Linked DNA regions of Homo sapiens: region 1 is linked to region 2. The links come from fine-mapping of genetic effects on gene expression. A gene starts in region 2. The other region holds a variant in brackets. All regions are shown on one strand. Distances are from middle to middle.

Region 1 (16,019 bases), 29 kb before region 2:
TGTGGCCGTGCGTCCCTAGCAGGCTGCAGACTGAGGCTGAAAGACAGGAGTGTGGCCGTGCGTCCCTAGCAGGCTGCAGACTGAGGTTGCAGCGAGCGCGCCATGCAGTCGCATTCCTCCTCCCAAAACCGCTGCACGCTGATTGGGGGGAAATGCAGACGTGTCATTATGCAGGTGCCACTGACAGCTGGGACTGCTGGACTGGCAGAAAGGAGACACAGCTGCCACTCACCAGTGAGAAGAAGCAATACAGCCTGGCACCAAATGTGAACTTTAAGTGCAAGTGGGAACACGATGCACTTCATTAAAAAAAAATCAGTTCAGCCGGGCGCGGTGGCTCATGCCTGTAATCCCAGCCCTTTGGGAGGCCAAGGTGGGCGGATCACGGGGTCAGGAGTTCGAGACCATCCTGGCTAACACGGTGAAACCCCGACTCTACTAAAAATACAAAAAATTAGTCGGGCGTGGTGGCGGGTGCCTGTAGTCCCAGCTACTTGGGAGGCTGAGACAGGAGAATGGTGTGAACCCGGGAGGCGGAGCTTGCAGTGAGCCAAGATCATGCCACTGCACTCCAGCCTGGGCGACAAGAAACTCCGTCTCAAAAAAAAAAAAAAAATTCAGTTCAGCTGAGCAATGAGGGACTGCAGGGACTCAGACCAGGACAGCTCAGTCCATCTCCCCGGGAGGGCCCTGGGCCCTACAAGGAAACGGCAAAGTCCAGGCCCAGGCAGAACCGCCCAGGCAGAACCACACAGGCGGGGCCCAGAATTCCTCGCACTTCCACATCACAGGAAGGCCACCAGTGACCACGGGCTCAGGTCACGGTCTCAGGACCCGAATTTCCCAGCCCTGGTGGATGGACACACACATGATCTATCCGTACAATGGAACAGTATTTGGCCATCAAGAGGGATGACTGGCTTGGCACACACAGCGGCTGGGATGACCCTGGAAACCATGCTCAGGGTGAGAAGCCAGGTGAGCCAGTTCCTACAGAATATCCTGAATGGGAAGACCCAGACACAGAAAGCCACTCAACGGTCGCCAGGGGCTGGGGAGGCGGGAAGCAGGGAGCGACCGAGGAACAGGCACGCACGGGGTTTCCTCTAGGCACGCACGGGGTTTCCAAAGCTGCTGAATATGCCAAAAGCCACCCCCTGAAACACACGGAGCTTGTGCTGTGACGACTACACCTCAGCAAACCTGCTTCCAGAAAAGTAAACAACCCTCACCTGTCTCAAACTCAACTTTCTTTGCTGGCTATCGTCATCTCCAAATACTAAAGACAGGTTTCTAAAGAAACAACCCAGGGGCAACTGGATGATGGGACTCAGCATCAAGGAAAAATCAATCCCGTGGGGCCCAGCTGACCACACGCAGAGCTCTTACACCCACAGGAGGAAGCCCATGGCCACAGCTGCTAGACCAACGCCACGCCAGGAACCTGGTCCAGCAGGGGAAGGAATGGCACCTGTCCTGCCGCCCCAATTCCGCCCAGGAGGCCACCTCTCCTAAGGCTGCAGCTGGCGGGTGAGGGGGCGACACGGTGGCTGTCCCAACCCCATGAGGCCACAGAGCTTCCAGACCAGGAGGTCCCAGAGAGATGAGTGCTGTGTACTTCTTGGAGACGCAGCTCCAGCACCAGGAGGCTGCAGGCCAGAGCTGGGCCTTACAGGACTAGACCCAACACCAACCAGAACCTGAACAGACCTGACCCAGAGAGAGCAGAACTTGACCCAGTAGCTACCTGGGCCTCCTGACCTCTTGAGCCTCAGAGAACAATCCCATGAGACTGAGTCAGCAAAGCCAGTCTATGGGAGGTGCAGGGACAGACGATGTGGGGTTTTTCATCTTTTTTTTTTCCTTTGAGATGGAGTCTCTGTCGCCCAGGCTGGAGTGCAGTGGTGCAATCTTGGTTCACTGCAACCTCTGCCTCCTGGGTTCAAGCGATTCTCTTGTCTCAGCCTCCAGAGTAGCTGGGATTACAGGTATACATCAAGAGGCCCGGCTAATTTTTGTATTTTCAGTAGAGATGGGATTTCGCCATGTTGACCAGGCTGGTCTCGAACTCCTGACCTCAGGTGATCCACCTGCCTTGGCCTCCCAGAGTGCTGGGATCACAGGCATGAACCACCACGCCCGGACTGATGTGATTTCTTTGACAATTACAAAAAACAAAAAACAAACAAACAAAAAAACGCAAAGCAATAGCAGGGAAAGGACAGTTTGAGAAGACCTGCAAGGCCTGCCAGGCGGCTCGCTTGTGCAGACACAACCGGGACGGCTTTGAGGGGACGTGCACACCCAAGACTTCCCCGCTGGGAACCCCAAGGCGGCCGCTGCGAGCCAGTGACGGCAGGACTTGGAATCATCTGGGCTGGTGGAGATGGAGCCGGCAGGCAGGGAGGGCACCAGGTTCGGCTGCCCCGCCTCTGCCCAGGCTGGAAGTCCCTCACCTTGCTCCTGTGGCCACTGATGAGACGTGTGCTGGTGCCCTCGGCCCAGCTGACAAACCACAGCGTGCCCGCCGTGGTGCCCACGACGCCCATGTCCACGCTGTCATCGAAGCTGGCACTCACCACAGCCCCGTCCAGCACCAGCTCGTGTTCCATGAACACAGAACTGGACCTCAGGGTGCAGGGAAGGAGAGAACAATGGGTCTCAAGGCCGATGACAAGAGCCAGCTGGGTCCCCAGCCGAGGCAGGGCCCTCAGCATTGCATCTCAGGACCTGGCTGTGCCCTCCCGGTGGAAGAAGAGAAAGCCCATGGAGCTGGGGCTTCTGGGCCCATGCCCGTACTCGACAGCAGCCAGTGAGGCCCAGGCCACACCCAAGCCTGTCCCTTGGAGGGGCTAGCAGGCGGCCGGTCTGCAGGGCGGCCTTTGCGGGGGCGGGGCACTGGCTGCAAGCCCCAGTCAGGGACACCAACACCCACGTGCAGCCAAAACACGTAGGGGTGAACAGCTCACCTGGCGCCTGAGCCCTTGCACCTCAGCTCCGACACAGCCCCCACGGCCCACAGGCGCAGCCGCCCCGTGCTGCTGCCGCTGACCAATCGAGAACCCGAGAACAGCAACAGCCCTAGGGGCAGGAGGAGCCATAAGGGGCCACGGCTGCCTTCCCAGAGGCCCTGGGTCACAAGGCTGCCCGGACGCCAGGGCTACAGATGAGGCCTCTGCCCCAGCTCTGAGGATCCCAGGTAGGGGTCCTGAGGGCCACAGGGCTTCTGCGGGGCACTCACCAATGCCACCGTCATCCGCCTCCCAGGACAAGAAGCAGCGGCCGGCACGCGTGTCCCAGACACAGACCTGGCCAGAGCTGGTGCCACAATAGAGCAGGGGAGGTGCCCCGTAGCAGAGCGAGGTCAGCTCTCCAGCCCCCACTGCCTCTGGGACTGGCTCTCGACGCACCTGGCAAAGTATGAGAGTGGCCATGGGTCAGCAGTGTCCCGGGGCCCAGGCAGATTCCACCCCACAAAACAACCCCTGGGCCCAAACGCTGAACGGGTGGCACCTGAAGGCTGATGTCTGCCCCACGCTGCTGAAGGAGCCAGAAGGTGACAGTGCCCTGGCCCACACAGGTGAGCTCGCCGGCGTCCCAGGGGTTGAAGGCCACACCATGCACCGGCTCCGGGAGGCGGGTGGAGGACACGAGGTCATAGGTGGCCGTGCCCCACAGGGCGAGGGTGCGGCCATCGTGGTCCCCTGGGAAGGACACAGAGCAGCCACGTCAGGTGCACAGATGCAGCCCCCCCCGGGGTCTAGGGAAGCCCCTGGCCTCCACCCTCCCTCCCACTGACCCAGTGTGACAAGAAGCCTGTCATCTGGTGAGAAGGCCAGGGCCAGCACGGTGGTGCTATGGGGGAAAATGAGATGCTGGCAGAGGCCGCCAGACACGTCCCAGACGCGGATCTGACAATGGGCGGTCGTGCTGCTTCGGCCCGAGGCAGAGGCCAGGACCTGGCAGGCAAGAGGCCAGGCGTGAGTGGGGAGGCCGTGGCTGGCTGGAGTGGAGGCTGGGGTGGCCGTCTGCTCCGTCTTTGGTGGTGAGAACCCGCACCGGTCCGGGAGCTGGGTTCTGCCGGGCACGGTGGCCCTGGGAGAGGAGGAGGGCGATGCAGGCGGGCACCTGGGCACTGTGGCTGAGGGCCAGCGTGGAGATCTCCGCAGAGTGGCCGGACCAGTGCTGCTGGGCGCCAGAGTGCAGGTCCTCCACCACCACCAGGCGGCCGCACGTGTAGGCAAAGAAGCCTGTGCGCAGAGAGGGCGGGGCCTGAGGCCGGGCCGGGGGGGGGGGGGGGCGGGGAGGGGCCTGGGGAGGGGCCGAACAGGGGGCGGGGCCTGGGCCGAGCCGTGGGGCGGGGCCAAGGGGTTAGCATCGTCCCAGCTGCGCCCTCCCCAGCGTCCAGTAGCCAAAGTGCTTCACAGGACCTCGGCTGGAGCGCCAGGAGGCGCTACCGGGAGAACAGAGCCCCACACTGATGGCTGGCGCTCATTTGCCACCAGGTCCTGGCCTTGGGGTGGAGACGGCTGGACCACGCGCGGCCGCATCTTGGCTGGGGGTGGGGGTAGGCTCTTGGCCCCCACCTGTGTCCGGCCTCCAGACCATGTTGGCCCGCCCATTCCCGCTGTAACCGACGACAGCCTTCAGACGCAGCCACCCACCGCTGGCGGGAGGCGGGCAAGTGCCCTGCGAGGAAGGAGACCCGGATGCTGCTGGGGCCCAGCATGGCCACCTGTGCCCCAAAGCCTGCACATGGGAGGCTGTGTTGGGGCACACCCAGGCCAGCTGCAGAGGACACCCAGGGGCAGACGGGGAAGCTGGGGTAGGAGGTGTGGGAGCTGTGGGCACTGTGCCAGGGCCAGGAGGGGCACAGGCCCGTGGGGCTCTCATCAAGGGCAGCTGCTGGGTGAGAGGGGAAGGCAGGTCAGCAGGAGGCCACCACAGAGTCCCGTCTGGAGGCCAGCGGAGGGCAGGGGTGGGGGTGTGGGATGAAGTTGCCTCCAGGGGACAGGCGCCCAAGGGCCAGAGCCATCACCTTTGGCGACCAAAAGCAACCCTGAGGAGGTGCTGGGGAGCCCTGCGGGGGGCCTCTGTGCTTGCTGGGGATAAAGAGGGCTCCCAGAAACCACTCCCCACCTTGGCAGAGTGGGGGCTGCAGCTGACCCTGGCAGGCGTGAAGGCCTTGCAGGAAGCCAGGTAGGTGGTGCGTGGGGCCCCCGAATTCCTGGTGTCCCTGGCGCCTGGCAGGGAGGAGGCAGAGCTTGTGGCATTACACTGCCCTGAGCTCTTCAGAGACCCCACACTACACGCAGTCTCCCCACAAGCCCCTGGTCTACCACACAGTGAGAACTGCACGGCGGGGCACAGGCCGGAGCCACAGACGCAGGCAAACCGTGTCCCACTGCAGGTGACCTTGCCTCGTCACACGGGGGACTCACCGACCGTCCTCAGGCCCCTGCACCGGCACCAGCGTCCCTGCCCTGCCCTCCACTGCTCACGGGGTTGGCCGGGGGAACGGGGAGGCAGGGCAAGCCCCCAGGAGCCCACTGCCGCAGCCCAGGCCCCGTCTCCAGCCCTGCCAGCCTCCTCCTCCGTGAGCACAGGTGGGCCTGAGGCCTGCCCAAGCCCCTCGGGGTCACAGCTCTCCTCACAGGGTCCTTCCTCATCTGACGGGGACAAGGTGCCTGGGGCCAAGGGGGAGAGGAAAAGCTGCCCCCATCCCGACCCCACCGTGTTCCACCTGATGAGGCTAAGGAGGAGAGGAAAAGCTGCCCCCACCCCGACCCCACTGTGTTCCACCTGATGAGCAGCGATGGCACCTGCACCCCAGAGCTGGACGTGCGTGAGTACCTGCTGCCACTGGGCCTGTGCCCTCTCAGACCCCCGAATCCCCCCACTCCTCCAGGACCCCTGCTGCTCACCATCGCCACCTTCGGGAGGCCTGGCACAGACGCCCAGCCGTGGTGGAGATGCCTGACATGGCTTGGGGACCTGCTGCCGGGGGAGCTCGCTGGCCCTGGACGCTGCGTCCTCCAGCGGTCCTGCGCCCGGGCCTGGGGAAGAAGCAGCCCTGTGATGTTTGGGAAGGAAGAGGAAGGGCCACTAGGCAGACACAGGACGGGCCCCAGAGTCAGCGCAGCACCTGCACCCCAGCTGAGCACAGCCACTCACCTGTCTTGCAGGCTGGGGGGGCCCCGGGGAAGCTTTGGTCGCTGGAGAGGGAGGAGAGAGGGTTTCAGGAGGGCCTGGGGGGCCTAGGCAGACACAGCTGAGAGTAGGCACTTGCCTCTCAGTAGGGGCCAGGACATCCCAGAGGAAGACGGCGTCCCCTGCGCTGAGGACCTGCTGCTGGTCAGGAGAGAAGGCCACAGCCTGCACGGGTTCCGAGTGGCCGATGTACACCTAGGGGTAGCGGCGTCACATGCAGGACCCCGAGGCGGGGCATGGATGCTGCCGTGTGCCCAGTCCCCAGGGACGGTGAGCCCCACACAGTGTGAGGCCCCGGAGGCACAGAGGATCCTTGGGGGGTCACTCTCACCCCTCACCTTCTGCTCTCCCTGCCCCCACCCACACCTGCAGGGGTCTCCAGGGCCACCTGAGGAGGCTCCTGACCGCCAAAGCCACCTGCCTCCCCACGCACACACCTGGGGGCCTGGGCTGGCCTGTGTGGCGTAGTCCCACACCTTGATGGTCCGGCCGGCGGCAATCAGCAGGAAGCGGGCGTCCTCACTGAGCGTCAAGGAGGGGCAGGGCTCAGGGTGGACACCGGGCAGCTGGAACACAGTGCTCTTGGGAAATGCCGTGTCTCAGGAGAGTGGCCAGCAGCCTGGGGCCTCCCTTCGTTGTGGGTGTGGCGACGGCCCCCCACCCAGCTGGAGAGGCTGCAGGCACAGAGGCCAGGCCTGGACAGCACAGGGAGGGCCAGGTCGGCGGGCCACAGCCCTGAGGCTCACCTCCCGGATGATGCGGCCCGACACAGCATCCAGCACCACGACTCTGTTGGACGAGGTGGACACCAGCAGGTGGCCCAGAGCTGCAGGGCCAAAGCACACAGCCATGGCTGAGTCCAGGCGGCTGCTGGCCAGGTCCAGAGTGCCGATGTCAACTCGCAGCAGCTGGGGGTAGTGGTAAGTGGCCGACAGTCAGGGCCCCTGGGCAGAGCCGGTGCCACCCAGGGTCAGGCTCGGGAGGGAGGTCCCGGGGACACGCACTCGGCACCCAGGCAGCACCTGCCCTGCACAGGAACCTGGCCGCACGTGGGCCCCACATGGCTGATGTGTACTCTGCGACAGGAGGCGGGACAGGGCCTGGGTCCTGCTCCCGAGTGGCCGTGACCTCCCTCCTGCCCCTGCAGCCAGCCTCTCATGGCCCAGTCTCCCTGGACCCAGGAGGGCTGCGGACTCACCTCATCAAGGGAGGCCGAGCCCATGACTGTCACTGTGCACCTGGAGGGTCCCACAAAGGCCAGCAGGCGGCCATCCCTGCTGACTGCCAGGGCGCTGGGGCTCGCGGGGGCATCCGGGCATACCATGTCCGCTGTGGCCACACGGGGCAGGGGTCAGCTGGGTGGGGAG[T/GGAGT]GCCGGGGTGCGCGTGGCCAGGGCCCGAGGAGGCCGCCGCCCCTGCCCCCACTTTCGGGAAACACCAGCCCCGGAGCACAGACGCATCACACCGGCAGAGGATTGCCAAGGTGCCAGTGGGCGCCAGGCGCTGCCAGGGGAGCTGGGAGTCCCCGTGGGCCAGCAGTAGTCATAAGTGACCACTCAGGGGGCCCAAGTTATGGTGGCCGCAGGACAGGGCAGGTGCCCATGCCTGGGTCTGACTCCAGCTGCTGACCTGGAGCTTGGGCTGCCTGCCGCCTCCTGGGCACAGACCCGAGCTGACCTCTGGCCTTGGGGTCCAGTGAACGCTAAACCACAGTCTCCTCAGGGCCTTGACAAGGTTACTGAGGCGGCCACGCCCCCCCACAGGACCCAGTCGGTGCACCAGGAAACCGGCATGTGTGTCCAGGTGTGGGCCTGCACCAGATCCAGGCCTCCCCCGCCCTGAGGAGTCCCCCAGAGTGGCTGCAGGGGGCCCAACCTGCCACTCGGAGGACATGCCACTGGGGGTCCGCACAGCTGTACTGGGCCAGGGAGCCCTGGGAGCAGGAGCTGAAGAGCAGGCGGCCGTCAGGGGTGGCGGTCAGGCCGGTGACAGCTCCTCGGTGGCACCTGCAGCACACACAGGGACCCCGCTGGCCCTAGCCCCGAAGCCCAGGTACCATGGGTTCCCTCGACCTCCAGCCAACCAGCCTGGCCATGGAAGTCCCCATGGGGCAGCAAAGGGTGGGGCTCCAGCCAGCACTGGCCATCCTGCACATGACCCCCACCTGGCCACCCCAGCTTCCACCGTGGGGTCTCCGTGGGGCTGGTGGCCAGCTGGGCACTTACGTGTGTTCCACCAGGACCTCAGCGGCCTCCAGGCTGAAGGAGCGCACGGCCCCACTGCTAAAGCCACAGAAAAAGGTTGGCCTTGTGGGGTGGAAGGTGACAGCGCACGGGGCGTCCTCTGATGATGTGAAGTCGTATAGCTGTGGGACAGGGGCCGTGCTGAGGGGAGGGCAGGGATCTCAAGGGCCCAGGGGCTCTCCAGGCGGCCCAAACCCATGGGGCCGACACAGGCTGGAAAGTCCAGGTCCCTATAGGCCCCTCTCACCCCCGCTGACAAACCCCAGCTTCAGGACCTCCCGGCCCTCCCTGCCGTGCTGCCCCTGCCAAACCCCACCTGCTGCAGGGTGGCCAGGTCCCAGATGCGGACGGTACGGTCCTGGGACACGGTGGCCAGCTGTCCCCGCCTCTGCTCCATGGCGAGGGCCAACACCGGGGCGGTGTGGGAGCGAGCCAGCATGTGGTACACCCGGGACAGCGTGTCCAGGAAGCCCAGGTGGCCCGAGGAGGTGGCAGACAGCACACGGAGGCCATCGGGGCTGACACAGACTGAGCTGACGGGGCCCTCGTGCTCTGTGGGTGGGGTGGGGTCAGGGGCCTCCAGGGCCACCCCGGGGTGAGCCGCATGCTCAGGCTTCGGGTCCCCGACACCCCAGCAAATGCACTCCCTGCTGCTCAAAGTCCCAGGCTCCACACGGCTGCAAGATGCAGCTCCCTCGAGGCCACCACTCTTAGGCTAGGCGGGACCCAGGCTGAGGGGCTTCACACACTACCCACGTCCCACCGGGCCCTTCCGTGAGGCTGCCCCGCGGGCCGCCCTGGCATCAGCCGCCCCAGGGCTCTGGATATGCCACTTGGCCCCGTGGCACCCTGTGCAGCCAGGAGCCAGGGCGGCTGACAGCAGAGCCCCGGGGACTGGGCCTTCCCCGCCCCAGCATCCAGGCGAGGCTCTCCCGGAGTTGGGAGAGCGTGCCCACAGCATCACCTGCCTCCAGGAGCACCGAGGAGAAGTCCAGGGGCCAGAGCCGCAAGAAGCCGTCCTCAGAGCCCACAGCACACATGGCCGGGGAGACGCTGAGGCTGCTGATGGCAATGCCGGGGCCTGGGGGCAGGGAGGCGTCAGTGCCTCGGTGTCCCTGCCACCCTGGCCACGTGGTGGGCGCCCTCTTACCTGAGCTGAAGGTCTGCTTCTGTGGGTGGGGACCGCCTGGAGTCCGTGTGGGGAGCAGGCGGCGGGCATGCCGCACGACCATGCGCTGACAGTCAATCTCCAAGATGTGGCCACTGCGGCTGCACACGAAGCTGCCCGAGGAGGCGGCAGGGAAGGTGAGGCCCTCAGGGAAGGGGAGGCCCAGGCACCAGGGCCCCCATGCCGGGGCAGGCCGTGGGGAAGGGCAGGGACTCACAGCATGGCAGCCGAGGGCTCCGGGCAGCCGTCCCGGGCCTGCTTGAAGGCCAGGTCGGTGAACTGCAGCGCGTGGTGCTCCCCTAAGTCCACGGGGCAGGAACGCAGCACCCCGCCACGCAGCCGCCAGAGCCGCACACTGCCCTGCCCGCACGACGCCATCCTGCAAGGAATGAGGACTGAGCACTGCCGCAGCTCGCAGCGCCCTGACCCACCGGGAGACGCAGAGACGCACAGCCAAGCCAGGGGGAGGTGCTCGGGCCTCGGCCCCCACTCCGGGCCCAGACCCTCTCCCAACATCGTGGATGGGCGGCTGCATCACCTGGTTTCATCAAAAAAGGTGACCCGGAAGGCCTGGACGTCAAAGTCAGTGTGCGCCTTTGCCAGAACGACCACCTCGCCACCGAGGCCCACCTGGCCGGTGCCCCAGGCCACCACCATCTGCAACAAGCCCAGGCTGAGCCCGCACGGCAGGGCCAGTCGGGGCCACCTCGATTCTGCAAGGCCCAGCCGAGCCCCACCCGGAGGTGGCTTTTCTCTCATGCGGAGACCAGCCTCTGAGCGTGCGGCCGTGGAGAGTGGAAGGAAACCAGCCCCTCCATCTTCTCATCCTGAAGCTTTGGGACTTCTACAGAGACCCGCAATGCTGAGCACTGCAACCCATTCGCAGAGAAGTACAAACCCCCCCGCAAGCCGGAAGGTGGATAAAAAGCAGCTCGTGGCTGGGCACAGTGGCTCATGCCTGTGATCCCAGCACTTTGGGAGGCTGAGGTGGGAGGACTGCTTGAGCCCTGGAGTTTGAGACCAGCCTGAGCAATGTAATGAAACCCTATCTCTACAAAAAGTTAAAAAAACAAAACGTGAGACCATCCTGGCTAACAAGGTGAAAGCCTATCTCTACTAAAAATACAAAAAAAAAAAATTAGCCAGGCATGTTGGCAGGCGCCTGTAGTCCCAGCTACTGGGGAGGCTGAGGCAGGAGAATGGTGTGAACCTGGGAGGCGGAGCTTGCAGTGAGCTAAGATCGCGCCACTGCACTCCATCCTGGGCGACAGAGCAAGATGCCATCTCAAAAAAAAAAAAAAAAAAAAGTTAGCCAGGTGTGGTGGCACACGCCTGTGGCCCAGCTATCTGGGAAGCTGAGGCAGGAGGATGGCTGGAGTCCAGCTGGCGGGGAGGTCAGGGAGGGGGTCAAGGCTGCAGTGAGCTATGATTGCACCACTGCATTCCAGCCTAGGTGACAGAACAAGGCTCTCTCTCAAAAAAAAAATGTTTAAAAAGGTGCCCCCACCAAGATGCCGGGTGCTTCGGCTGTGTGGAGGTGCCATTGATGCCCAAGCGTGGGTCAGCTGCAGGGGCTCTGCCACGTGAAAATCTTACAACCGCATCACCAGCAGAGAGAACGAGGCGAGGTGTGTAAACGCTGGCTTAAACCGACTCCGATGGCCGAAAAGCCGAGACGTGAAATGTGAGCTGCTGGTGGTGGTTTTTGTGCAGGGCACGGGGGCGGCATGAACACCAGAGTGCAGGGAGCCCCACCACAGGGAGGACACAGAGCAGGGACCCAGGGTCACATGAAGCTGGAGTTTCAGAAAACCAAGACCCTTCCAGCTGTCTGCGTGCATCAGGACAGCCCCACCCCAACCCGCAGCCAGGGCCCTGTTACCGTCCTCCCGTGGTGGTCCTTGCCAACCCCGCAGAGAAGGGCCCCGCTGTCAGAGAAGCTGTGAACAGGGAGGAGGTGGTCATTGTCGCCTGGGCTGACCCCCTCCCCCTGCATGGGGCAGACCTGTGCTCACCTGAGAGAGCAGACAACGTGCATTGGGCTCCGGAACAGGCACAAGCACCGCCCGGTCTGGAAGTCCCAGAGCCGCATCACACTAGGGGCCCTTGCCTGGGCCGAGGCCAATAGTGAGCTGCTGCCATCCAGCGCCAGGGCGGAGACCTAGGAGGCAGAAGGGTGAGGGAGGGTGTAGGGGCTGCAGGTGTGAGCTGCCCCAGGCCCGGGCAGCACCCACCTTGTCTGTGTGGCCAAGGAAGAAGCGCTGCTCCCCCGTGTCCACGAGCAGGACGACGATGACCGCATGGCAGGGGTACACGACAGCCGCCCCGTCTGGGGTCCACAGGGCCTGGCACAAGGGGGCGGGGGGCTGAGGACCGGTGCTACGCCAGGCCCCTCCTGGCTGCCGGGAGGTCAGCCTCACCTCCCACTCCAGCCCAGGGAGAGGGGGTGGCAGGCCTGGCACACACACCTGGGCACACAGCCACCCAGGGGCAAGAGAGAACACACACCCTGCACACACTACATACACGAGTCACAGGCTGCATGTGTCAAAAGAACAGCTGGAACACTCAAGCAGACACGTGTACACACATGCACAGACGCCTGTCCTCTAAGCCCCGCCTCCAGTGCAAGAAACTCCGGGGTGGGGGTAACAAAAGGCCAAAGGGCCCCCAAACACTCAGAGCAGGCACCCAGCAGGGCCTGACAAGGGCCCAAGGCCACTGAGGCAGAGGGGAAGGCCACCTCCTCTGCCATGGGGCTCCTCTCCTAGAAGGCCCACGTCACCCATGAGGGACCTACAGGTTGTGCCCACAGCCTGGCCCCACACTGCTGGTCTGGATCATCAGAGCTCTAAAGACGTGAGAGCTCTGGGTCTTCGGGGGGAGCACTTAGCCCAGCCAGTGAGTAAGAGATGCCCGTGACCCTGAGAGCCCCCGGGCACCAGGAGGTGACAGCAGCTGTGGGCGGGGCAGATGCCTGAGCACGCGGGAAGCAGCGGACTGCAGGGGGACGGGACCGCTGTGCCAGGGGGGCTCGGGAGCCCACACACAGCCACCACAGGACATAGGTCTCTCCTCTCTCCCCGTTCTGTACTCAGCGCTCGAGCCGGCCAACGAGAGCTGCTCTGGACACAGCCGCAGGAGCCTCACCTGTCTGGTGCCGTGGCCCCCAAAGCCGATGACGCCCTTGAGCCTCAGGACTGGGTCTGGGAGGAAGCCCTGAAACAGCCATTCGCATCAAAGTCCTGGGAGGCTCAGCCAGGTCCCCAGAATGCCCGACCAACTCCGAGCCCCGCCAACCCCTAGCTGGGTCCTGCCTCTCAAGAAGACTGCCCTGGTCCTGGGTGGCTCCTGCTGGCTGTGGTAAGGTGGAAGCTGGGACTCCAGTTGCACTGCCAGACCTTCGAGGGTCCCCCACAGACCACCTGGGGCTGACGCATTGGGGGTGAGCAGAAGCCCTGCCTTACTCTTTGTGGACAGAGATTCTTCCCCAAAGCCGCCTCCCGCCAGCTCTGCTCCTTGCCAGGAGGCTGAACAAGAGGAGACCGTTGGAGGCACATCCGTTCTGAATGCATCTCGGGGCGGGCTACCAGCTGCCCCAGCCCACACCTCACCAGGCCCCGCCTGCTGTGGGATGGGCACTCACTTCGCAGGAGCCGGTGCGGGCCACGGGCACCTCAGCCGACTCGTGAGTCAACACGTGGGTGCCGGCAGCAGCCGTGTGGATGTCAGAGGCCTCCAGCTGGGCCCAGGGCTCAAGGCTATGGAAACCGGGGCCATCCGCGTTGGAGGCGTCTGAGCGCTCTTGGGACAGGCTGACCTCCGGGAAGGGCCTGGGTGCCAAGGCGGCCCGGCCGGACTGCTGGGGGACAAGTGCCCATCAGCGTCCTGGGCCATCACACCCCAACCCCATCTCATAGGGCGAAGGGGGTACTCACGGCTGTGGGGCTGGGCGTCTGGACCACTGGAGACACACTGAACCGCACAGGTTTGCTGGAGGCCACCGGGCAAGGGAGAGGCTGTGGCCCCGGCCCCAGGAGGACTAGAACAGAGCAAAGAACCCCAGTGACCCAGGGGCCAGCTGTGCAGATGCCTGGTGAGGGTGACGCCTGGGGAGGGCAGCAGCAAGTGGCCCAGCCTCACCGGCTCTGCAGGACCCACAGCCAGTATCCCCACTTCCACCCTAGGCCCTGAAAGTCTCCTCTTCCAGCTAGAAAGCTTGGGGCCCCCGGGTACCCCTCACACAGACTTCCCACCCTCGTGGTTCTGGGAACTCGGACAACCTACGGGCTTCCCTGGGTCCCTGCACCAGCTGCAGCCAGCACACCACTGGGTCCTTTCCCAGCCCTGCCCTCTCCTACCGAGCCCCACGCACCCTACAGGCCTTAACCTGGGTCCCCGCTGACCCCCCAGACCCACCTGCCTCAGGAGGGGAACAGCTCTTCTCAATCGGCTTGGAAGGCACTTTCAAGCTCTCACTTGGAAACCTTGGCAGGCAGAGGGAGAGTCAGTGTCTGGGGGCCCAAGGGCCACCCACCCTCCCACCACCGAGGCCTCCCTCGAAAGAAGCAGAACCACTCACCGGACGTGGATGTAGCGGTCATGCCAGCTCTCTCCCTTGGGCACAGGGAATGCCATTTCCCGAGGCATAGGAGTCACGGGCAGCTTTGCCCACTGGGCCCCAGAGATGGCTACAAGGAGCAGGGTTGTTCCAGGTCAAGGGAGGCTGTTTAGCCACCTGAACACAGGGCACCCGCCAAGGCACTGCCACGCCACCAGCCCAGCCACCGCCCCACCCCAGGGCTGCCTCTGGGATGGGTTCTGACCCCAGGGCTGCCTCTGGGATGGGTTCTGGCCAGAGCTCAGAGACAGCACAGCTCGAGCACTGTATTTTCCCAAGCACCCTGGACTTGGGCCTCTCCAGGGCTGAGAGCATGGGTGAGATATGGAGTGGGGAGTGCAGGTGCGGCCCTCACCAGGCTCAAAGCACAGGTCACTGGTGTACAGGTTCCTGACCAGCAGGCTGGCGCACAGCCTGATGCTCTTGAGATGGCCGTAGCACCGGTTCAGGTAGACCAGGAGAACGTCCTGCAGATCGAGCTGCAGGCAGGTCCAGCGGGCTCCGGAGGGGGCCAAACCCACCAGATCTGCAGGATGGGCACTCAGGGTCAGCGCCCACCCTCCTGACAGCCCGCGACTCCCAGAACTGTGAGCTTGTGCCCCCGCCAGGTTGTCCTCCAGGCCGCAGAGGAGCCTCACTGGGCCTGCACCAACTCCCTCCAGCCACCTGTCCTGGATCATCCACACCCCATCTTGGTGTCACCTCTCTGAGGTGTCCTGGCCTCCAGGACCAAGGGAAACTGGAGCCACGTGGCCGTAGACTTAAACTCCTTGAAGAGGTTGGAGAAAGACACACGGATGACTTGGTTGTCCTGTGGGGACGGAGCAGGGCCGTGAGGAGACAGGGGCCGCAGGGGTGCCGGGGCTCCCACGCAGCCCCCAGCCGCGGGCTCCGTACCTTGGAGGACACATCGAGGTGGATGACGAAGTGCTTGCTGGGCAGGGGCCGAAAGAGCACATACAGGTATCGTCCCGTCAGCCCCAGAGACTGGGTGCTGCTCTTAGGGAGCTGGATGTAGTTGGCGGCAGAGACTGAGCCCCGAATGCGATACACGGCGCCCTTCAGGGTCTTGTCCTGGAGAAGCGGGAGCCCGCATCACCGACAGCACCCAGAAGAAGTGCAGCGGGGGCGAGGGGGCCCTCGGGGGCGGGGCAGCTCTCCTGGGGGCAGGGCAGGGGTGTGGGCTCCGGGCGAGCCCCCGGCCGCCTACCGTGACCACGGCCACGTCCCCCTGCTTGGCGGAGCGCTTCCACTCGTCCACCCGGAAGTGTCTGAAGACGTTGAGGAACGGGTGCTGCCACGCTGCGGGGAGCGGGCGCCGGGCGTCAGGGGACTCGGCCACGCGAGCCGGGGCCACTGCGGGGCTGGGCCGGGCCTCGGGGACCAGGCAGGAGCCGGGGCTCTCCGCGCCTTCCCCGGCGACGCCAACGCCAGCTAGGCTGGCGGGACGAGGCCGGGCGCCCGAGGGAAGCCAAGCTCCGGGAGCCCGAGGGTGGGCGCCCGGCAGACGGGACCCTGCCTGAGCGGGGACTCTGGCCTCAGGGCCTAGGCGGGGGCCCTGAGCGCTCCGGCCGCCGACCCTGGACCCCGGAACCCCGGAACCCGGGATCCTCGGGACCCCCGCCAGCCGCGCGCTACCTCGGGCCATGGCGCCGCCGCTCGAGCTTCCCGCCTAGGCCTCCGCGCGCCCAGCGCAGAGTACGCCCCGCGACGCCAGGCAACGGCTGCCTGGCAACGGTGCCACTTCCGCCATTACTTCCGCCGTCATGGCGGCGCCCTGGCC
Region 2 (13,247 bases):
GTCTGTACCCCTCCCTGGGTCATCTGCCAGCCTCCCTACCCCCTTGCCCACCAGGCTGGCCTTGGCTGACTCCCTCTTGGGGACAGGGAGGGGGTGCCCTTTCATTCTCCAAACCCCAGCCTGCAAGTCTGTCCCAGGCTCTCTGGGAAATACCCCGACCTTGGTCCAGTGGGCTGTGTCCCCATGCCCACAGCCCTATGCCATCAATGGGAAGATCTCCCCCCAGAGCAACGTGGACTTTGACCTGATGCTCAGATGCAGGTCAGAGCTAGAGGCGGGGGGTCTGGCTCAGGTGGCAGGTGGCTTGGGTGGCACCCCCCAGGCCATGACTCCATCTCCCCACCCTCTGCAGGAACCCAGAATGGGGGCTTCGGGACACAGCCCTCCTGGAGGACCTGGGAAAGGCCAGTGGCCTGCTCCTGGAGAGGATGGTAGGTGGGGGAGCGGGGGCCCAGGCAACCTCTCTAGGGGTTGAGGGCCGTCCTCCAGCAAAGTGTTTCTCCAGGTGGACATGCCAGCCAACAACAAATGCCTGATCTTCCGGAAAAACTAAGCCCCTCCTTCACCCCCGCACACCTGCATCCCTGCCGGAGGCTCTGTGAGGCACGAACCCTGCCTCCCTAGGCCGGACCTTGTGGACGACAGCCCCACCCAGTCTGTGCTCTCAGCCGCTGGCCGAAGGGCCCAGCCTGCTCAGAATAAAGCATGTCCTGCTGCCGGCTTGCTGGTGTCTGCCCCACCTCCTCCTAGGAGCACCTTGTGAGGTTGGGTGGGAGACGGGGTCTCCTGTGGGGTCAAGGGCTTGGGACGTCCTGATCCTTGCTGCTGGAGCTCGGGCAGTGGGATTGGGGCCGAGACAGCTGCTGAGGCAGGATGGAGCTGGTTGGGGATGCAGGGGCGGACAGGCACTCCCTGGTGACCTTGTACCAAAGCCCAAGCCCCAGTGGGTGTCAAGGCCCCAGCGGAAACTGGCTGGGCATGGGGCACCTGGAAGGATGAGGGTCGCCCGACCAGCAGCAGCAAGCCAGGAGGTCTGAGGCACAGGGAGTGCGTTTATTCACCAGGACGGGGTGGCGCAGGCCCCTGCGGGGGCTAGTCCTGGAAGCGGTTGAGCAGCTCGCAGGCCTGCTTCTCCAGCAGCTCCAAGATCTTCTTGACGCGCTTCTCGCTGGCGGCGCGGACGTAGCTGCCGGCGTCCAGCACGGCCACGCCATCGCGCACCTCACCCATGATGACCAGCGGCCCGTCGCCCGCCGTCATGTTGGGGCAGGGGCAGGCCCAGTCCATGCCACTCAGCGTCACCTCCAGGTACTTGGTGCCCAAGAACTTGAGGCCCATCTTGTCATCCTTGAGCACGTCCTCGAGCGCCACGCGGGCGATGCCGCCGGCGGCCTCGGGCTCCTCCAGCACCTCCGTGAGCCGCCCCACGATGGCGAAGTCGCTGCGGCACAGGCTCAGCGCCAGCTTGCTCCGGAGGCGGCAGGCGCGGCAGGGCGGTGTGCGCGGCACGGGGCAGGCATCCTCGCAGCTCTCGCGGCTGTGGAAGTTGTTGCCGTTGCCCTCGCAGCCACCGTACACGAAGGGATGGCACTGCTGCAGCAGCGGGCTGTAGGCCCAGCGCGGCTCCCAGCCCCGGCAGGGGCCCTGCACGGCAGGCAGCACGCAGGCGTCGCCGGGGCCGCGGGCACAGGCCTGCTGGCATGCCTCGTAGGTCTCAAAGCCGCGGGCCGCCCCATCACAGCCACGGGCCGGGAAGGTCATGCAGCCGCCCCGCTGCGGGTCGTAGTGCCAGAGGACAAGGTGTGGGGAAGTGGGGCCCGTGCAGGCCTGCACATCCGGCAGGCACTCGGCCGGGGCTGGGATGCTGGGGGCTGCGTCCCTGGCCGGCTCTCGCTGGACCACAGAGAGTGGGAAGTCAGCCCGCAGCAGCCCAGCAGCGTTGCGCGCGGTGCAGGTGTACAGGCCGGCGTCTTCGGGCCGCGCGTTGTAGAGCACCAGCTGCCCGATGCTGGTGACCACCACGTTGCCATACATCTGATCAGGGCGCATGATCAGGTTCTCTCGCTGGTGACTCTGCTTCTCCCAGGTCACAGCAGGCGGCGGGCGGCCGCTGACGTCGCAGTGGAGGCTGGCCGTACCCCCAACCTGCACCGCCTGTGGGGAGGGGCTGCTGTACAGGGCAGGAGGCACGGGCGCGGCCCCAGGTGTGGGGCGGGCAGTGGTCTCCGGCGGCCCCGGGCTGCTGGGCGGCCAGCTGAGCACGTGCTTGCAGGGCACGATGTGGAGGTGCAGGCCCCGCAGGCAGGCCTCGGCGTCCATATAGCAGCGGTTGTAGTAGGTGAGGCCGTCCGAGGCGCAGGTGAAGCTGGGCTCCTTCTCACAGCGGTCGCGGCAGCGGCACACGGGCTGCCCGTCCCAGATGTCGCAGTCCGAGCCCTGCTGTGGGCACACAAAGCCCTCGCAGGAGGCCGCTGTCGTCGGCGCAGCTGGGCTGCCGGGGAAGCGTGCTGCCACGCAGCTGTGCAGTCCACACACGTTGATGCAGCACTTCTCAGCAGCCGCACAGTCCTGGGGATGGGGGACACTTAGGTGGGAGCCCCAATGCCCCCCGCCCCGGGGCTCTGGCCTGGCCCCTGCAAGGGGAGGCCCAGGTGGGGTAGCAGGGAGCCCCCCGCTCTGTGGCTGCCTCCCCGGGGACTCAGTGTCCTTTCCATCCTGTGTGAGGAGCCACCTCGCCAGAGGTGCCACCTGGCTTACCTTCCAGAATCCTCACACCCACAAGCAAGTTCCGTTATTCTTTACGTTGTACAGACGAGGAAACTGAGGCCCAAGGAGGGCGTACAGTGCTCAGGACCACCCAGCAGGTGGTGCGGGCCAGGACAAAGGCTGGACATCGGCTGCAGCACCCCCACCACCATCTGCACTGGTCCCGGATGGAAGGAGGGTGGGAGGACAGGGAGGACAGTGGATGGAAGGAGAGGGTGGGAGGAGAGGATGGAAGGAGAGGGTGGGAGGAGAGGATGGAAGGAGAGGCAGTGACGGGGTGGGAGAAGAGGATGGAAGAAGTGGATGGGAGGAGTGGATGGGAGGAGTGGATGGGAGGAGAGGGTGGGAGGAGAGGCAGTGAAGGGGTGGGAGAAGTGGATGGGAGGAGAGGATGGAAGGAGAGGCAATGACGGGGTGAGAGAAGAGGATGGAAAAAGTGGATGGGAGGAGTGGATAGGAGAGGATGGAAGGAGAGGCAGTGATGGGGTGGGAGAAGAGGATGGAAGAAGTGGATGGGAGGAGTGGATAGGAGAGGATGGAAGGAGAGGCAGTGACGGGGTGGGAGAAGAGGATGGAAGAAGTGGATGGGAGGAGTGGATGGGAGGAGAGGGTGGGAGGAGAGGATGGAAGGAGAGGCAGTGAAGGGGTGGGAGAAGTGGATGGGAGGAGAGGGTGGGAGGAGAGGGTGGGAGGAGAGGCAGTGACGGGGTGGGGGTGGTCGCCGAGGATGATGGTGCCCCAGGGTGGAGGCACATGGGGAGCATGAAAGCTGGAGTGGGGAGGGCTCTTATTCTTAAGACAAATGAGGGCAACGATGGGGGTGTCTCTGGGCCCCTTAAGGGGCCCAGACCCAGACCCCCCAGAAGTCTGGGGAGCCCAGGCAGAAGGTGGCACCTCCAGCAGGGTCTTGCCCAGGCTGGCTGCTCTGAGCCCCAGGACCCCGGCCCGACCACACTCACCTGGTCCCTGCTACACTCGCGCTCACAGGTGCTCTGGGCGTCCACCCACAGGTTGGGGCTGAGCTGGTTGGGGCACACGCCCGGGTGGCTCCCCAGCCCTGGCAGCAAGCCAGCCCCCGAGGTCAGCCGGAGGAGGAGCAGGAGCGGCAGGAGTGGACGTAGGGCGGGCATGAGGGCCGCCGAGCCAGGGGGCCGGGGGGTGTGGCCACCAGCCCCTCCTCGGGCTCCACAGAGCCCAGCTTCCTGCAGGCATCCACCCTCCGGGCCTGTGGTCGGTGCCCCCACCAGGACCCCGGGGCTCCCTTTTGCCCCTGAGGCTGAAGCCTGCAGCAGATGCTTGTCCTGACACCCCTGCTGGGTGGGTAACGGGGTCTCCAAGTTCTCAGAGGCCGTCTGTGTGACGCTGGTTCCTCTCCAGCTTCAGCCTGGCCCCTCTGTCTGAACCGTGCGGGGGCTCCCAGGCCCTGGTCAGCACAGGGCAGAGGGGAGGAGGTTGGGGAGGGGCCAGAGGCCCATGAGCACAGAGCCACTGGCCATGAGGGTCACCGGGGCGGGGAAGGGCTGGCTCTGGCTGGAGAGGGGGAGGGGAGGGGACCCTGTAACCTGAACCCCTTCGTCCACCCCTGGGCTGAGATCAATCTCCTTGACGACCCTCAGTAGGGTGGGGGCAGGGCCAGCAGATCCCAGCTTTTGTCCCTGGCGCCCTCTGGACCCCAGGCTCCTATGCCATGGGGGTGGCAGGCACGGGCCCTCCCCGCAGAGCGTGGCTGACCACAGCCTGGGTCCCCCGGGCCAGGTCCAGGCTGGCAACGGTCACGTGCGGCCGAGGGCTTCACTCCGCTCCGAGGTTCCTTCCCCCCTCCATGGCTGTTTCAGGGGCACAGGGGTCTGCAGGACGCCCAGCACAGCCCGGCCTCCTCTGCTCTGCTGCCCCTGTTGGAGTGGGGCCCAACCCGGCAGGACTGCATTCCCAGAGACCCCATCCCTGAAACCAGGCAGCGGGCTTGGGGCTCAGGCCTGTCCCCAAGGCGGGGCAGGTGCAGCAGGAAGAGGCCTGTGGCCACCACAAGCATAAGAACAGCCCGAAACGCTGATGCCGGAGCCTCGGCCCACGCACCGTGTAGCCCTGGACGTGGCTCCGCGTGGGATGGCACCGCCCGAGGGAAGGCCAAGTGCAAGGGCGTCTGCAGCTGAAAAGAGCAAGTGTCCCAGGGCACCAGAGCCTTGCCCTGCCCCAGCCCCCCGTCGGCGGGGCACACATCCCCAGGCTGGCTCCTCTTCGTTGGGGAGGGCAGGGGGCTGGCCTGCCTGGTGCAGCAGGACAAAAGGCTGCCTGGAATCTACCCTTCCAAACCCTCTGTGGCTCCAGATGTCTGGGGCCTCAGGGAGTGGTTCTCTTGAGACCGGATGGGAGTGTCCCCCTGACCCTGTGTCTGACCTCTGACCCAGGAGGCAGGGTAACAGGAGCCTGGTCTGGTCAGAATGAGACCCGGAGACGGCTCCAGGCGCCAGTCCCTGCTCTACAAGGAGACTGGGGGTGGGCCCTGATAGCGTGGGGGTGGGGGTAGCTAGGCCAGACCCAGCAGCAGGCGGCTGGGCTGGAGCTGCCAGGGAGGGGCTTAAGGCCCGGACATGCCCACGAAACAGCACAGGGAGGCACCTGAGCCAGAGGCTGTGGTCTGGTCCCTGTACCAACTGGAGTGCCCCGTTCCAGCTCAGCTGTGACCTCCGGGGCGTCCACACCCCCCTGGGCCGGGCATAGCAGACACCAGATTGGCCAGCGTGCAGGCGGCTCTGCTGAGCGGGCCGACTGACTGGAGGACCTGGCCCTCTGGAGTCCTGCTGCTGTTGGGGACAGTCCGCCCCAGGCCATCTGCTGCCGGGGACTGTGAGCGAGGGCTCAGCACAGCCCAGCTGGGATTCCATCCACCGGGAAGAGGAGAATGGCCGTGACCAGGCCCAGCTGCTCCAGCCCAGCTCCAGCCCTCACTTTGAGGCGAACCCAGCCAACCGCGGCAGGTCAGCCCGGTCAGCGCAGGGAACAGCAGGCAAAACAAAGGCCAGAGGTCAGTTTGCCGGGTATGAAGCAGCACTGGCCCCTGGCACGGGGCACCGCCACTGCCAGACCCACCCCACCAGACACAGCAAAACGTGGGGACCACAGCTGAATTACATTTACTGTACAAAGAACGGTTCGGAGAGAACCAGGAATGGCGGAGTGTCTAACAGCAGCGCGGGTAGTGTTGATGCCGTGAATGCAGGACCATCCAGGTCCTCAAAGTCTGTGAGGTTTGTTCATAATCCCAAACAAGGGCCCTGCTGGCAGCAACAGGACAGGTGGGGCCAGGACAGGGAAGCTGGAGCAGGAGGCCAGTGTCTTTGGGGGCTGTGGCAGGGCCGCCTGCCTGGGGTTCCCTTACTCATCTGGTAGTTCATGCAGGCCACGGCCCTCATCTCCCAGGAACGGGCCATGGGGCGAGTCCACTGGTGCCCAGTAACACCCTCCGTGGGACCACCTTGGGAAGCATGTGCCGCGGAGTCCACCACGGGGGGTCCTGGGTCCCGGGAGGGCTCCTTCTGCGTGCTGGCCATGTCGTGCCGCACGGCCTGAGGACAGGAGGTAGAGGTGAGCACCAGTGCTGTGGGCAGGCCCAGGCGATGGTGACCGTGCAGAGGGGCTGCTGGGGCAGGCATGGGCAGAAGCACTGGGTGGAGGAGCGGCCAATGGCTTCAGGAGAGAGGTGGCCGGCCCTGCGTGCCTGGGGCTCAGCATGAGCGCCGGGCTGGTGGGCCTTTGAGGAGGGGCCTAGCCTCCCGAGGCCCCCAGGTGGACGTGGACGTGGACGAGGTGGTTCCAGGCACGTCCCTAAGAAGGTCAGGATGGTTCTGATGCCGTGCAACCTCACAGGAGAGCTGCAGCTGTGGGGACCCCAGGGCCAGCGACAGAAGCTGCCGAGAACAGGAGGCTGCACGCAGGTGCCCGGGGTCTGCACCGCTGCCCATCAAGTATTCCTAAGTCTACAGATAGCTCTGCACTCTCCAGGGTGGGCGAGATGATCTGAGTTTTGAGTGGTCAATGTCCCCGAAGGTGTCACATCACAGCAGGAAGGTTCTCATCCCCACGTGGGGAGGGATTTGGGGAGCAACAAAAATGTGGGCTGCCAGGTGCACCTCCTTTCTCCCCTCTCCTGAGTGCTGCTTGGGCTCTGACCACAGGACCACACCCTCCATCCCGTGGGAGCCAGGGCCCCGGTCACCCAAGCTTCCAGAGGGAGCACCGGCCCTGTCTGCTCCCCCGGCCTCTGGGCAGCCCCGCCACTCGCAGCGCATGAATTCACAGGATGCCTTGCCATCGCGGCCGCGAGTCCCCTCTCGAGGAGTCCCAAGTGCGTCCCCGCAGCTGGCGTGGCCATGAAGTCACCAGTGCACCACCACCGGGCCACACCCAGGCTTCCCTGAAGGCCCCTTAAAAATGTACAAAAAAGTGAAGTGTTCTCTATATAAATAAGAAAGGCCAACCAGGCTCCCCGCCGGTCAAGCCCAGGCAGCTGGGGAGGCCCGGCTTGTTTCCGACCAAGATTCCCGGAAGCACCAGCAGCCCAGCCGCGCCCCCTCCTCCCGCCTGCCGCGCTTGGTCCGTGCATGCTCCTCCTCGCACCCGGCTCAGGTGTGAGGAAAGCCCGGCGCTTCTGAGGCAGCTGTGTGGACAGTCTCCACGTAGGCGGCACTGGCCTGGCGTCCAGCCAGGAGTGTCCAGCTCGAGCCCTCCTGGCATCTGCACAGGCGGCCCCGCCCATCCCCGCTAGGAGATCTTGCAGTTACTCCGCGAGCAGTTCTGGGGGGGGCTCTGGGGTGGACGGATGGACTTGGACCTCTTGAGGCTGTTGCCCTTGCTGCCGCCGCCCCCGGCCCCGCTGGCCAGGGAGTAGGAACGGCCGTGCATCATGACCGCGTTCATGCCGTTGGCCATCGAGAAGGACTTGAGGTGGCTCTTGATGGTGACGGGCAGTGGAAGCTTGTCGATGAGGTGCACGGGGGTGCAGGAGACGATGGCCCGGCAGCAGAGGTCCTGCAGGCTGAACACTGTGGGGCAGAGGGGGTGTCAGACCATGGGGCTGTGGGGGAGGAGGCCCTGTGCAGGGAGACCTGAGGTGCCCAAGAGAAGCCTGGCGGGGTCTCCACACTCCTAGAGGTGTTCCCAGGCTGGGCTCCTGGAGGACCTGGACGCCCAAACTTCTCTGCCCAGCACAGATGTGTCCACTGGCACCCCATCCCCTGCCTTGCTCCCTAAAGCCAGGCACGCTGGGCGGTGCTGCTGCGGGGCTTCCAGAGGGCACTCTGCCCAGTTCCTGGCCTGGATGATGCAGCTCCCAGTGTGAGGGCTGCGTGATCTGGCCCTTCAAGCGTCCTGACTCATCCCCTAGAGCGGGGGAGCGCGCGTCCTGACTCATTCCCTAGAGCACTCGCTCATTCTTTTGTTTTGTTTTTTGAGACGGGTCTCGCTCTGTCGCCAGGCTGGAGTGCCGTGGCACGATCTCCGCTCACTGCAACCTCCGCCTCCTGGGTTCAAGCGATTCTCCTGCCTCAGCCTCCCGAATAGCTGGGACTACAGGTGTGCGTCACCACGCCCGGTTAATTTTTGTATTTTTAGTAGAGACGGGGTTTCACCGTGTTGGCCAGGCTGGTCTCGAAGTCCTGACCTCAGGTGATCCACCTGCTGTGGCCTCCCAAAGTGCTGGGATTACAGGAGTGAGCCACCGTGCCAGGCCCGTGCTTCCTCTTAAGAAGGACAGTGACACCGTCAGCCACCCTCTCTCTGTTCAGCAGTGAACCCTGCTGGGAGGCACCACAAAATCAACAGTACCACCTCCCTGAGGGGGGCTTCACGGGAGCCTCTGATCAAGGATGTGGCTACCCAGGAAGAGCAGATGACACAACACAAAGCTGCAGGCACGGCTCCTGTGCTCCCCTGACAGCAGGACCAGCCCCGGAACCAGGAAGGAGCGAGCACACACTGCCCACACCAGCAATGCCAGGGACCCACAGGCATGGCAGAGTGCAGCGGCCACGGCGGCACCCTGAGGGGGGGTCATCAGCTGCTCCTGTGCCCCCCAGTGCTGCCGCCTCTCCCCCGAGGCTGCTCTTACCAAGTCACTGACCTGCCGCCGGCCGAGCCCCTACTGCGCGTTGCCAAGGGACCTGCCTGAACCTCCCTCACTGGCCCCTGGCCCCCCTCAGCCTCCATGTGATCAGGGCAGCCCAGGTTCGGGGACCTCAGGGCTGGCCGGCGCCCGCCCACCCACCTCGGTTGGGCCTCCAGATCTTCTCCATGCCGTGCCGCATGAGCACGATGCGGGATAGCTCCGTGAAGGACTCGATGACGTTGAAGTTGCACAGGGGGCTGACCTCAAAGAAGGTCATGCAGTTCTTCTCTGCGTACGCGCGGGCCTGCTCCGTCGGGACCTGCCGCTTGAAGGCCAGGTGCAGCCGGTTTCCAACCAAGATCCGGGGGACTCCGGGTGCATGCTGGGGGCACAGAACTCAGCAGACGCACAAACGCAGGGTGCCACCCACCCCTCAGCCGCAGCAGGGCCCGCCCTCATTGTCTGGACTATGATGGGGTGAGGGCCGTGGGAGGTCAAGGTGGGCGGAGGTCAAGGTGGGCAGACCCCAGGGCTCAGGCCCTACAGTGCAGCCCTTCCGGGTGGCCCCGTAGCTCCTGGTCTTGCTGGGCTCCACGCCCGACTGTCGTGTGCACAGTGACCAGCATGCCCAGGCGTAGGCCGTGGGACAGTGCAGGGTGCAGAGCCGGGGCCACAGGAGGGGCGGCAGGCGGGAATCCAGAGCCTACCCGGGGCCCAGGTACCTCCATCCAGCCTGCCTTCCCCGGGAGGGCTCCCCGGACCCAGGCCTACCTCATCGATCTCCTTGATCCAGCGGTCGATGCCGTCAAAGGACCAGCGGTTGGTGATGTCATACACCAAGAGGATCCCCTGCAACAGAGACTTGGGGGTCATCAGGGGTCACTGACACGCATGGCCAGCCCAGGCCCAGGGACGCTCAGGTGCAGGGGCCTCAGTTCCCGGGCAGGGCCAAGGATGCTTATTACTTGGCGGATGGGCAGATGAGCCATGCCCTCCAGGCAGAGCTGGTGCAGCCCTGCCCCTCACCCCTGCCCTCACCTGGCAGGACTGCAGCAGGGGGGTGGGCGCCTTCCATGGTGTCAGAAATGCCGCTTCCCCTCCCTCCCCTGGAGCCATCAGCCTGTGGAAGTTTCCTGGGCAGGCAGATGCGGGGTTCTGGCAGCCGGGGGACGTGCAGCTGTGGAAGCTAAGTGTCCTCTCGGCCAGTCCATCAGTGAATCCCCCCGGGAGTACCTGGGACAGAGCTGAGTGGGGGCATTTCTGAGTTTTCCAACCTAAAACTTGCAGAGCAGAATGCCAGTCCCTCCAGGACAGTTTCTGTGAAGCTCCCCCAGCCAGGCAGAGCAGGTTTTGCCACGGGGACTTTTTGCCACATCCCTTAGAGACCAATTACTTGGAGCTCAGCTCTGGGCTGTTTCCACCTGCCCTAAATATCTCGGCAGTGACAGTCATGGCTCTCCAGCAGCACAGGGGAGCACACTGCTCACACTCAGAGCCCTGTCGGGCGAAACGGTGACATCACAGGCCCATTCCCCTATGCCCGCCTCTCCCCAACGTCCACTCCCACCCTACAATTCTGCAACCAGATCCAGCCAATGAGCTGTGATCCACCCTACTCCTAGGCTGACAAAACCTTCACGTAATGGAAGAGCCTATCACACAAGAGGCTGAGGCTGAAAGAAGAGGGCACTGTCCATCTGAAAATTAGGGTTTTTAGAGCCTCTTAGAACCATCTTTCGATATCTGGAAGACTGAAGTGTAGCCCCAGGTCCTGTTTAGAACAAGGTTGACATTACTAAGCTCCCAGGGCGAAGGCCTTGCTCAGGATGGAGCGACAGCTCAGGAAGGACACCTCTCGCTGAGGGAGACCCTTCGAGGCCAGAGATGGCCAAGTCAGTCTGGTGGGCGATAAATGATAAGATTCAGAATAAACAAATGCACACCCAGGGGTTAACCCTGGAGGTTGGGGCACAGGGACTGGGGCTGGCTCATTTGCTGCTGGGGGAGGTGGAGAGACTGGGGAGTGGGCCACCAAAGCGTACAACACAGCCCACTCTCCCTAGTGGCAACCTCCCGCATGGCAACCTCCCGCATGGCAAGCCCACAACTCAGAAGTAACTGAGGATGTGTGTCACAGTGGCGCTGATAACAACGACAAGCCAGACACAAATTAAATGTCCAGCCTCAGGGGACAGCTGAGTAAGCGGCAGTGAAATGTACCGTGCAGATGCTGAAGACAGCAGCAGTGCATGTAAAAGCGTGCATGCTGGCCAAGGAGAGATGTGCAACCCAGGTGAGGTAAGAACGCAGGTCCCAGCACTGCGGATGGCATTTTCTTTTTTTTTGAAACAGGGTCTCACTCTGTCAGCCAGGCTGGGGTTCATGCAGTGGCACGATCATGGCTCACTGCAGCCTGATATTCTGAGCCTCAGCTTCCTGAGTGGCTGGGAATACAGGTGTGAACCACCACATCTGGCTAAGTTTTTTTAAACATTTTTTAGAGATGGGATCTTGCTATGTTGCCCAGGCTGGTCTTGAACCCCTGGCCTCAAGTGATCCTCCTGCCTCAACTTCCTAAAGTGCTGGGATCAGAGGTGTGAGCCACTGTGCCCAGCCCAGCATGATTTCTTTTTTTTTTTTTTTTGAGACGGAGTCTCACTCTGTCGCCCAGGCTGGAGTGCAGCCGCACGATCTCCGCTTCCGGGTTCACGCCATTCTCCTGCCTCAGTCTCCTGAGTAGCTGGGACTACAGGCGCCCGCCACCATGCCCGGCTAATTTTTTTGTATTTTTTTTTAGTAGAGACAGGGTTTCACCGTGTTAGCCAGGATGGTCTTGATCTCCTGACCTCCCGATCTGCCCACCTCGGCCTCCCAAAGTGCTGGGATGACAGGCGTGAGCCACCGCGCCCGGCCCAGCATGATTTTTAAAAAATAAAAGTATGAACACACAACACATTACACTGAAGAAGTTTATATGGACATAAAACAAATGCTAAAAGGCTGGAGAGGGGTAACTTTTGATGCTGACCTGTTTTCTGTGGCAAACACCCCTATTCGCATGACACTGAAAACTCTAGAAAGAGAGCAGAAGGCCCGCCTCCCGGCTGATGGGCTGCCTCAGGCTCCAAGTGTGCTGTGACGCGGGGGGCCCTGGCCACACCTCCCGGCTGCTGCCCTGAGCGGGCCCCCACTTCCTGGGATGGCCATGTCTGAGGAGTAGGGGTTACGGGCAGGGGCGATGGCACAGGAGGACCCGGAGGCTTGCTCCGGCGTGGGTCACAGTGAGGCCGCAGGGACCCAAATGACCACGGAGTGAGAAACCAAAAGGAGACTCTCGGTGACCAGCAGCCGCCTAACGAACGGCACCCTAAGCACCCTCAGCTGCGTGTCTCAAGGGGCAGAGCACGGGACAAACAGACTCTTCCACTGCCTTCTGTTTTCTAAAACTGATCTGATTTTTAAAAAACTAGCGACTTCGGCCAGGCGCCGTGGCTCACGCCTGCGATCCCAGCACTTTGGGAGGCCGAGGCAGGCGGATCACGAGGTCAAGAGATGGAGACCATCCTGGCCAACATGGTGAAACCCCGTCTCTACTAAAAATACAAAAATTAGCTGGACGCGGTGGTGCACACCTAGTTCTAGCTACTCGGGAGCCTGAGGCAGGAGAATGGCGTGAACCCGGGAGGCGGAGGTTGCAGTGAGCCGAGATCGCGCCACGGCACTCCAGCCTGGCGACAGAGCCAGACCGTGTCTCAAAAAACAAAACAAAAGAACGAGCGAGTGCTCTAGGGGATGAGTCAGGACGCGCGCTCGCCCTGCTCTAGGCCCCTCTAGGAGCCGCCCTGACAGTCAGTTTCCTCAGCGTCTACAGACGTGTCCACGGTGCCGCTCATGCCTCGCGGGCGGGGTCAAGGGGGTGGAGGCACTTGGCGCTGCTCCCACCCGCACGCCCTGAGCTCAGGCCCAGCACCCCCGCCTGCTCGTGAACTGGTACTGCGCCAGCTCTTGGGTAACGGTGGCAATATGCATCTGAGCACGTTTACACCTTTTTTTGATCAACTCGACCTACACGATAAATTCCCAGAAGTAGAACTGCTGGGCCTAAGAGTGGGTGTCCTTTTTGCTATCATTTTTTACTGAGCTGTAACTTACAAAGCACAAAATACAAAGATCCGAGGTTTGAACATTTTGATGAATTTTGACAAACACATGCCCCTTCCACCCATGTGGCTGAAGCTCCCAAGGTACAGCCAGCGAGAGTGAAGCCCTCCTCCTGCATCCCTGCACCCAGGCTCTGCCCAGGAGCAACTGACATGTAAAATGGGAGCTACTGCCAAGCCGCGCCCACTCACATCCACCCGCCCACCTGTGTGCCGAC

Evidence for each region. PIP is the estimated chance that this variant, and not a neighbour inherited with it, causes the effect.
Region 1: its variant is fine-mapped to the expression of WFIKKN1 in pancreas (GTEx, PIP 0.98).

What each region holds. Positions count from the first base shown.
Region 1 is chr16:649,282-665,300 of GRCh38, reverse strand. WDR90 (WD repeat domain 90) reads right to left here and starts at 15,936. Exons shown (of 41, transcript NM_145294.5): 1 at 15,875-15,936; 2 at 15,447-15,538; 3 at 15,134-15,310; 4 at 14,939-15,047; 5 at 14,592-14,762; 6 at 14,198-14,306; 7 at 14,035-14,102; 8 at 13,554-13,657; 9 at 13,262-13,474; 10 at 12,766-12,834; 11 at 11,850-11,960; 12 at 11,631-11,776; 13 at 11,498-11,555; 14 at 10,154-10,272; 20 more. The coding sequence starts at 15,884. It overlaps LOC105371038 (a long non-coding RNA gene), which reads left to right and starts at 15,988. Exons shown (of 2, transcript NR_135177.1): 1 at 15,988-16,019. RefSeq lists enhancers at 5,025-5,915, 15,077-15,899 and silencers at 15,562-15,691, 15,802-15,901. The variant T/GGAGT (reference allele first, on the strand shown) is at 7,578.
Region 2 is chr16:621,903-635,149 of GRCh38, reverse strand. WFIKKN1 (WAP, follistatin/kazal, immunoglobulin, kunitz and netrin domain containing 1) reads right to left here and starts at 4,165. Exons shown (of 2, transcript NM_053284.3): 1 at 3,726-4,165; 2 at 1,033-2,568. The coding sequence starts at 3,896. The coding sequence ends at 1,093. It overlaps RAB40C (RAB40C, member RAS oncogene family), which reads right to left. Exons shown (of 6, transcript NM_021168.5): 4 at 9,641-9,718; 5 at 9,029-9,251; 6 at 5,882-7,808. The coding sequence ends at 7,528. It overlaps METTL26 (methyltransferase like 26), which reads left to right. Exons shown (of 6, transcript NM_032366.5): 4 at 194-261; 5 at 353-431; 6 at 506-720. The coding sequence ends at 553. RefSeq lists enhancers at 4,072-4,806, 4,987-5,281, 4,807-5,540, 7,010-7,743, 12,696-13,247 and a silencer at 7,373-7,623.